Homo sapiens: one gene and its partner. The protein of the gene in region 1 purifies or fractionates together with the protein of each later gene. This does not show direct contact. Each region holds a gene or a part of one and is shown on either strand. Other genes may lie near its edges.

Region 1 (5,613 bases):
ATTGGAAAACAAGTCCTGCAGGCCTCTCACCTCACAAGGCTAGGTCATAAAAGGTGATGCACCTTTCTCCTTGTGAGCTGTATATGTTCACACTGGAGCCTTAAGGCTGCCATACTGGGAGGAAGCCTAAACTGGGCCACAGAGAAAGGCCATATGGAGAAGCCCTGAGTCTACCTGAAAAGTGGGATGCCCAGCTAACCATCCACTCCTCCAGCTCCTGTCACCATCCAACTGCAATCACATGAGAGACCTCAAGCCTTTGGCTTCCCTAAATTTCTAACCCACAGAGATTGTGAGAGAAAATAAAATGATTGCTGTTGTCTTAAACCATTAACTTTTGGTATCATTTATTCTGTATTAATAGATAACCAGAACACCTACCTTTAGGTGCTCAAGATAAAGCATTAAACAGATTTACTTTCATAGGGTTTCCATTCTAGATCTTTCTCATCTTTGGCAAGTGAAGAACAATTGTTTTTGGGTTGTAATTATCTATCAGATAGCTGTCTGGACCTGCTATCAAGTCTAAATTTGTAGATACACCTATCAAAGAGATCACATTCACTTATTTATACATTTACTTATTTATTTTACAATTTTTTGTAGAGATGGGGGGGGTCTCGCTGTGTTGCCCAAGATGGTCTTGAACTCTTGACCCCAAGCAATCCTCTCACCTGGCCTCCAAAAGTTATGGATTACAGGTGTGAGCCACCATGCTCCATTTATGAATTTAATACATTAATTGCTTTCTTAATATAGATGGGACACCTCTGACCCCTCCTGAGTGAAAAATCCATGTTCCCAAGCACCCAGGCCTTCTATCCTATCACAAGGCATGGTTATCGCTTGTTTGCTTCCATCTCACCTAATACCACCAGCAGCTAAATTCATTCTGTTATTCATCTTTGTATTCTTACCATCTAGGCTAGTGCCTGCACATAGCAGACCTATTTAAAAAACAAACCAACCCAAACAAACATGAAGCCCCCACGTAGCTGAAGGAGGGCTGCTGGTTCCTAGACATAGAGATAATTTATTCAAGGACAGTCCCTATCCTCCAGGAGTTAACAATTCAGCACTAGACACCCTGTGGGACCCAGCCTGACAAGTGCAACGAGTGAGATGCCAGAATTGAGTCCTGCGGTCGAACAGAGGGACTACAGGGCAACGCACTGGGCGTGGGAGGTGGAGATGGCTCTGGGAAAGGATCCATTCATTTATTCTACATTTATCAATCACCGTAGCACACACAGCACATAGTAAGTGCTCAATATCTGTTATTAAATGCCAGCCACTGTGCTAGGTGCCAGGATGCAACAGCGGACAAGAAAATTGCAGGGGCACTTGCCCTCGTGGGGCTTACCGTGTAGCGAAGGATGACAGGCAGTAGACTGTCATCTTATTATGTAAAATTGTGCTAGATGCAGAGCAGGAAAATAACAGGCGGCTGAAATTCTAGTAATGATGTGAGCTCCTTCGGCTGAGGGGAACCGTGGGCGGGTTCTGAGCAGGAGTGGCCGTGAGGGGGACGGACCGTAGGGGGCGGGAAGACTGCAGGCAAGAGCTGGTAATTTTAAGATGCAAATAACATTTTTCTGCCTGACTGGAAGAGGAGCGTTTGGTCGCTCGGGATTCTCCCGGAGCAGGGGGCTGTATTTTGAGTGTAAAATCGGTTGCCCCGCAGTGCAGGGCAGGCGGTGGTGAACTGCAGCCCTAGTCCCCAGGTTTTTCATGCTTGGCACATCGAGGCTCTTCGGCCCCCAGGACCAGCAGACTCGCCATGCGTGGCTCGGATTCGGGCTGGAGCAGGCGGGCAAGGTAGCGGGGGCGGGTGCACAGCAACGCTCACCCCTAGGTTTCGGGGTCTGCAACGCTGGGAGGGCAAGAGGAGGCGGAGTTTGCGCTGCGGACCTAGGCGTTGGCGAGGGCCACGCCCCCAGCCGCAGACCCTGCCTCCAGGCCCCTTTGATTGGATCAAGACCGCGGAAGGGCCGGGCGTCCTCGGGCGGCCTGAGGGTCGGGCAGGGGAGGGTGCGCTGATTGGCCCGGCGGGGATTAAGTCATCGCTAGCAGGTTCGAGCGGCCCAGACACCGGCGGGGCGGCCGAGGCTGCTGTGAGAGGGCGCTCGAGGCTGCCGAGAGCTAGCTAGCGAAGGAGGCGGGGAGGCGGCGTCTGCACTCGCTCGCCCGCTCGCTCGCTTCCCGGCGCCGCTGCGGGTCCGCGCTGCGTTTCCTGCTCGCGATCCGCTCCGTTGCCCGCGCCCGGAACAGCAGCACCTCGGCCGGGTCCGAGCTCGGTTCGGGAGTCTTGCGCGCCGGCGGACACCGCGCGCGGAGTGAGCCAGCGCCACACCTGTGGAGCCGGCGGCCGTCGGGGGAGCCGGCCGGGGTCCCGCCGCGTGAGTGCTCTGGGCGGCGGGCGGCCCGGGCCCCGGCGGAGGCGCGCCCCCCGGCTGGGCGCCGCGCGCACCATGGGGCTCCCAGCGCTCGAGTTCAGCGACTGCTGCCTCGATAGTCCGCACTTCCGAGAGACGCTCAAGTCGCACGAAGCAGAGCTGGACAAGACCAACAAATTCATCAAGGAGCTCATCAAGGACGGGAAGTCACTCATAAGCGCGCTCAAGAGTGAGTGTCCCGAGCCCCTCGGGGACGCGGCTCCGGGGCGGGAGGAACTGGGAGGTGGCGCTTAGCCCGGGTTGCCCGCGCGTCTGCCGGGTTTCTGCTCCCGGTACACTGGGGGACGGGTGTCGACGCCTCCGAGGCAGGAAGGATACGTAAAGCGGGCGAACCAGCAACCATCAGATGAAGAGAGAGACCCGTCGCTCCGCCTTTTGCGTTCAGGGATGGTCGGGAGGTGACCCAGCGCGGGTGGTGCTCTGGGGCAGCGCGGGTGGGCGTGGGCGTGCGCGGCACGCAGGTGTCCCAGCAGTGGGGCCAGAGTGCCGAGCGCGCCGCAGCCAGCGGGCAGATCCCATCGTGTCCACAGCTCCAGCTCCCTTAGGGGCAGAGTTGCTCAGCCTTGAGTGCCCAACCGTGAGAATGGAGCGTGCCCTGCCGAGGGGGCGCTGCCTCCCCTTGGGAAAAGGTGGGTTGTGACTGCTTCGCTCCCTGTACGCAGCTCCAGCCTAGTCAGGCCGCCGGGTTCCCTGGGTGGAATGCTTGGTTAGCTTGCGATTCCTTGGAGTATTGGCAGCCAGTAATCTCTAAATCTGGAATCAGTACGTGCGCAGGTTCTGATTCTTGTGTTTAGCAGAAGGTGATAGGGGTGGGAGTAGAGAATCAGAGTGTTCCTTTACTCTAAACTGTGGGCGAGGGTTTAAAAATAGAATGTACATATCCCAACTCTCTCCCTCTCCTGCTCCCAAGCTCTCCTTTTTACCTCTTCCGTTATCCTTGTAAAGGTCTGAGAAGGAATATCCATAATTCTCAGAAAGAAGTTCAAACGTATTTCAAAGATTCTTGGACCTTTTGTAAAACCATTTTTGCGTTTTTTCCTTTTGGTACAAGGGGAGAGATGCAATTTTGCATTCTGCTTCACTTTTGCAGAGCCAGAGAGTTTCTTTTTCTGGCCAAATAAGCGTGCTCTAGGGATGAGTGCTTTGGATTGTGAGAACGTTTTTGGTGCCTTTTCAGTCTCCCCATTTAAAAATAGCTCAGTCCATCTTTTAGTTTTAAGAATCAGGAACCACATGAAGGCAGATAGTGGAATTGTCTCTGACTCTGTTACTGTATCTGTTTCTGTGATGGATTTCTTAGTAGGTGATACCTTTCAGCTAAGAAATCTTGCCTTAGCAGAGTAGAGTCGTAGCTGTGGGAATTGTTCCCAGGCCTCTTTAAAGGGCACTTACAAAAGTCAGGTGCCTGAGATGTCATTTTGTCAGCTTGTTGCTTCTAAAAATGAAGAGAGAGACAATGGAATGCCAGGGCAGCCCAAAGTGCCAATCTTTTGGGATGAAATGAACACAGGACTGTGATGTGATGAGGCTTCTTAGAGGCAGATTCTTAGGCTGTGCCTTACCTGAAACATATGAACAGACCCTTCCTTTGTCAATAATCAAGGCCATTCTTGGTTTAGGGGATGGGGGTCCCTGGTTTGGAGTAAGTTAGGGGCCCACTTACAGGTTGGGCCCAGGAATTTTGATTGAACCTCAGGCTGGCTTTAGTGAGTTCTCTGCTTCACTCAGCAAACTTTTGGTGTGATTGTGGTGTACTGGGTACTGCACTGGGCACTAAGGGTGTAGGAGTGAATATTTTGCTGCTCCTGTGCTTACAGAGGTGTACTTCATTCCAGGCACTGCTTCACATATAATTATCTCATGTGCTTAGATTCATTCTGCAAATGAGAAAACAGAGACTGGGGGAAGCATTACCTCTGAGTCACACAGCTCTAGCAGCAGGACCAGAGCTTTTGAATCCACCTGGTTTGAGCCAGAGATGGAGTCCCTGCCAGTGCAGAGCTCTTGACTTCTGCCCCATCTCACTTGCCCGGAATGGAACCTCTTGCACCAAGCCCTAGAATTTGGACTTGTGTTTTCTATTTTGGCATTGAATCTGAGGAGGGTGCGTTTGGGTGACTGGCAGTTTTCCTACCACTAGTTTTTGGGGGCAAGAATTCTTTGGTAGGAAGAAACATTGCAGTGATAGAGTTGAAGTGTTATTTAAGCTGTCTAATGGAATGGATCAGCCCTGTAATCTGGAGGAAAGACTGATGGGGATCTCGGTGTTCTGTTCTCTCTACGTCCAGCTCTGCTAATGTATTCTACCACTACTAACTACTACTTGATCAGGTCAGGTGACCTCTAAAAATAGAGGGTGGAGTCAACCATTGTGTCCTGGATTTCAGACATTCCGATATCATGAGATGCTTGCTGCGTGGTATACTACTATATTAATGTTTGTGTATTATTTTTCTTCAGTCATGTTTATTATATCTATAAACAGAAGTGTTTTCCCAGTACAACTTAAACATAAATACATAATTATATAAACACTGGGTTTAGATAATCTATGTTCTCTTATAGCTCTAAACTTTTGTGGCTTTATTTTATAGCCATATTTTATTTTATTTTACAGTTATTTTATAACTAGTATTTCTAGCTCTTTGGATTTAACTTGGTTTTGAGTGTTAATCATAGGCAATAAAACTGTCCTCTAGGGATTGCCAAAGTTCAGGTAGATCATTGTTACTATTACTTCCACTTTATGAATGAGATGCTGGCAATGGAGATGCAAATTCTTTATAGATCTAGATCCCGTAAAGGAGAAACATGCAGCAGGTGCTTGATTAAGTGAAAACATTGCCAGTTGTTTTTTAGACTCCGAGCCCTGGGTAGCAAAGACCAGCTAAGATTTTGTATTATCCTCTGAAGTTTTGGAGTTCTTTCTCCATCACGGGCTTTGAAGGCTAGAGGGACAGATGAGAGTGGCTGAATATGTCTTGGCTTTGTAAAGCAGCAGAGTTTCTTTTGGGGGTAGCACTGAATGATTATCAGTGATTGTCTTTTCACTGAGTAATATAGCATTGAACAGAGAGGCCAAAAACCTGTTCTTGGTGTGATTCAGTAAGGTAAGTAAGTGGTTCATCCTCTTTGCCTTTCAAAGCAAGAGTAAAAA
Region 2 (4,559 bases), on another chromosome or scaffold:
TTGAAAAGTGTAGTGTCCAAAACAGAATGTAGTTATTTGATTCTGACCTAGAGCAAGAAAATCACCTCCTCATCAGGATACCATATTTCTGTTATTGCAACTTGAAGTCACCTCATTTTAGTGGCAGCAGTCTCACTTTAAATACTGGGTGTGATCAGCTAATGACTTAATGGGGAATGTAAGGGATCATTTTAGATAAAAGGCCAAGATGAAAAATGGACATGTGAAAATAGTTTTTTTTTTTTTTTACTACGACTTGCCACATATTTTCAAGTTGAATGTCTTCTGTTAATTTCTCTTTATTTTGTTTGCCAGTGAATATAGAACCTCTTTTTTAAAAAGTGTTTTTGACCATCAGAGGGGAGTATACCTATTTGTGTCTGCTGCTCTCCTACCTTCCTCCTACTCTGTCAATGTGATAGTTTGAAGCTGCGTATTTGCCTTGTTCTAGGGCAAGAGTGCTGACTTCACTAACTTCGATCCTCGTGGCCTCCTTCCTGAATCCTTGGATTACTGGACCTACCCAGGCTCACTGACCACCCCTCCTCTTCTGGAATGTGTGACCTGGATTGTGCTCAAGGAACCCATCAGCGTCAGCAGCGAGCAGGTTTGTTTTGTAATGACAGGTCTGTTTACGGGTGGAGCATTTAGTCAAGGCAGAAGACCTTGGCCTCCAGAGTGAGAGAGAACTGAGATTTAATCCTTCTCCTGCTACTTCTTGCTATGGAAATAGTGCCTTTGATGGTGCCTAGCAAATAAACAGCGTTCAGTAAATCTTTGTTGTTATTAACTATAAACTTAGTTCGTTTAGTCTCTAAAATTGAATAGTCATTGTAAGGATTCAATGAGAAAGATGTCTGTCACCTAATAAATGCCTTTTTTTTTTTTTGCCAGTTATGAGGAAACTAAGGCTTAGAAAAGTGAGAGTTCATATTCAAGGTTACGCAGGTATCAGTGAGTTACCAGCCTACTACTCACTCACATAAGGGCTTTCTGCTATTTTATTTATATCAGAATGCATTTCTGAATCCTGACAGATGAGAGTCATCCCTTGGAGAACATGTATCTATTAAAACTCACTCCAGGTTGCTTTAGAGGCTTAGAGCAGGTATTCTTACATTTCCAATAAAATATAGTGTGTGATCGTCAAGTGATTAGTGCAGCTTCTAAGTCACTGATGAGCAGCCACTAAAGTGGATACAAATGAGTTTTTCCTAGACTTACCTCTTAGCGCACAGTTGAAATGTAGAAAGTGAACATTCCTTAGGATTCACAAGAGGATGGATCCTGAATAATTTAAGGATAGCTTTAGGAGCCAACAGTCTTGAAAATGGTAACTATGTGAGTAGTGGTAGTGTGATTTAAACCTACAAAAATGCTGAATAATAGAGGTTTAGAGCTGCAATGTGCAATAGAGATCATGTTGTCCAACTTTCTCATTTCACTGGCTTGAATCACATTGATCAACAGTCTGAGATGCAGGAAAATTGAAGTGTTTTCCACTCAGCTACCTTGCAACAGAATCAGGCCTGGGAGCAAGGATTCTATTCCTGTGTCCTCCCTTAGAATATGAACTTATGAATGCTGAAGATACTTCATATCTTTCTTTAAAGGAAATATGTATCTGACTGGAAAATTACTTGTAGCATATCAAAGTGGGCCTAAAAAATAGCATGCTTGGTATGTCACTTGAAGATTGACCTTGTAGTAATAACATATTTGAGTAAGCTTCTTGAAGTGTAGCGTAAGGAAAGATTATAATGCCCTTCTTTTTGTAGATGCAGTGTTTACATTATAATTTAAAACATGAATTTTTTTTTCTTCTTTCACTGAGAGCAATGCAACTTTAAAGCAATAGTCTGACATTTAGAGCCATTATAACAAATGGATTTATGGTGTATACACACCCACAGGCAGAAATACACATATAGATAAGGGCAGTTGAACCTACTGCATTAATCCCTGTACCCTGAGTTTGCTCTTTAAAGTTGAAAGTGGTATTAAACTAATGATGTTAATTGTATATATTGGCAAAATACCAATAGGGCTCTTTTTTTTGTCCTATAACATGGAATCTGGAGGAAGGATCATGCTCAGCTCAGGAAGCTAGGGCTGCAGGTCCTCCTCTATCTGAGTCCCTTGACTTGGCCTTGCCAATTGGTGACTTCATCCTCAAGGTGGTTGTAATAGCATTTTGAGCATCACATCTAGATATAACCACTTCTTGAGGAGGAAATGAATACCTCTTCCATTGGCTTCCTAAGAGCAGAGAAGCTCTTTCCTGAAGGCCCCTAGAAAACCTTTCACTTCTCACTGGCTAGAATTGTGTTTCTTGCTCAGTCCCTAGCCCGGGAATGTGATCATCACAGTCAGTTAAGACCTGCAGGTTTACCCCACTGAGGCTTACAGGGAGAGGGCGGATGTCTGTTAATGAGGAAGTATGGGGGGGCGTGGATTTTAGGTAAGCAGTATAAATGGGTCTGCTAATTCTGCTACCTTTATTTTCTATACCCAGGCTCTGTCTCTGTGATGCTAAAACAATGAGTCAAGTTGACTAATGTGACAGTGTAGTTTAATTGGTGCAGTGAGTAGCAGAAATCGGTTATACTGGTTTGATCAAAAGTTTGACCTGTTTACACTTTATGAACAGACTCTCTTTCAGATTGCTGGAATTCTGTTGTAACGAATCAACCCTATATATCCTTAGAATGCTCCCTTGCATTCAGTAACCATAGCTGTGCATGTTATAATGTATGTGCATGGAAGGTGGCTCTACGGGGGTGATTGAGGGACTATTACTGGACAAAAGAGATCAGGTTAAAGGCTGTTGATTCATGGGCTGCTATATTACTGTCCAAACCACCCTTTTGCATTTGGATCACGTCTTGGTTAGAGGGGGGAAAGTAGCACTTTTTGAGAACCTTGAAGAAGTGGGAGACTGTTCAACAGCTGCCTGTATCTCAGTGGTGGCCAGTAAACTGAAACAAGTTTATAAGGGAATAAAAATCAACCAGTGACAAGGGGTTCTAATGTTAAATGCATATATTGGCAAAATGCCAGTAGGGCTATGTAGGGTGGTGAGCACTCACAATTGTTCACTAAAATGCTGTTTTTAAAACAGGAAAGTAGAATGGTTGAGTGCAAATCCATAGCATGAGATAAATTGAGCTTCTTAAGGCAAATCAGCCTAGGCAAATTCATTTCCGTGTTTTTGTGTATTTGGAGATGCCAGCTCGTCACTCAGCCCATGGAGCTTACAGGTCCTGATCACTTGATCTAATTGTATGGATGTGGTAGTTTGTCTTCCCTGGGGCAGAAAACAAAGCTTTAATTTGGAACTAAAATTGTTATTATTTTGCATCTAAAGGTATGAGTTTATAGACTTTTGATGTTAGATTTTTAAATTAGAAGGTCACTGAAAATTTCCCTTAAAAATGACCCCAACGAATTTGTGTATTTTGTATAAATTGGTTTGTTATATTAAAGCATACATACATAATCTATATGTGATTATGTATTCATTAGGAATCAAACTGAATTTTGGCCATTGATGCACAGCACTGAATGTTGTGGAATGTAATTTTTGTTTGTTTTTGTTTCTGTTTTTTGAGGCAGAGCCTTGCTCTGTCGCCTAGGCTGGAGTGCAGTGGCGCAATCTCAGCTCATTGCAATCTCTGCCTCCAGGGTTTAAATGATTCTTGTGCCTTAGCCTCCTGAGTAGCTGAGATTACAGGTGCTCTACCACGCCTGTTTAATTTTTGTGTGTGTGTGTGTGTGTTTTTTTTTTTGTAGAGACAGGGTTTCACCATGTTGGCCAGGCTGGTCTCGAATTGCTGACCTCAAGTGATCCACCCGCCTCATGCCTCAGCCTTACAAAGTGCTGGGATTACAGGCATGAGCCACTGCGCCTGGCCGGGGAATGTATTTAAAGATATAACACAAGTATATAACTGAATACCATTGTGAAACATTAATTATCAATGTTTTATTGTGTCTTTTAGGTGTTGAAATTCCGTAAACTTAACTTCAATGGGGAGGGTGAACCCGAAGAACTGATGGTGGACAACTGGCGCCCAGCTCAGCCACTGAAGAACAGGCAAATCAAAGCTTCCTTCAAATAAGATGGTCCCATAGTCTGTATCCAAATAATGAATCTTCGGGTGTTTCCCTTTAGCTAAGCACAGATCTACCTTGGTGATTTGGACCCTGGTTGCTTTGTGTCTAGTTTTCTAGACCCTTCATCTCTTACTTGATAGACTTACTAATAAAATGTGAAGACTAGACCAATTGTCATGCTTGACACAACTGCTGTGGCTGGTTGGTGCTTTGTTTATGGTAGTAGTTTTTCTGTAACACAGAATATAGGATAAGAAATAAGAATAAAGTACCTTGACTTTGTTCACAGCATGTAGGGTGATGAGCACTCACAATTGTTGACTAAAATGCTGCTTTTAAAACATAGGAAAGTAGAATGGTTGAGTGCAAATCCATAGCACAAGATAAATTGAGCTAGTTAAGGCAAATCAGGTAAAATAGTCATGATTCTATGTAATGTAAAC

The links. The genes of interacting proteins can lie anywhere in the genome.
Region 2: the proteins of ARHGAP26 (region 1) and CA2 purify together in Homo sapiens (affinity purification with mass spectrometry; one large-scale study listed by BioGRID and IntAct). This does not show direct contact.

What each region holds. Positions count from the first base shown.
Region 1 is NC_000005.10:142,768,291-142,773,903, forward strand, and holds the start of ARHGAP26 (rho GTPase-activating protein 26), read left to right. Parts: upstream 1-2,086; 5' UTR 2,087-2,471; coding exon 2,472-2,625; intron 2,626-2,936; exon of another isoform or gene 2,937-3,039; coding exon of another isoform or gene 3,040-3,085; intron 3,086-5,613. UniProt on the Homo sapiens protein: GTPase-activating protein for RHOA and CDC42. Facilitates mitochondrial quality control by promoting Parkin-mediated recruitment of autophagosomes to damaged mitochondria.
Region 2 is NC_000008.11:85,476,669-85,481,227, forward strand, and holds part of CA2 (carbonic anhydrase 2), read left to right. Parts: intron 1-451; coding exon 452-607; intron 608-4,001; coding exon 4,002-4,121; 3' UTR 4,122-4,559. UniProt on the Homo sapiens protein: Catalyzes the reversible hydration of carbon dioxide. Can also hydrate cyanamide to urea. Stimulates the chloride-bicarbonate exchange activity of SLC26A6. Essential for bone resorption and osteoclast differentiation.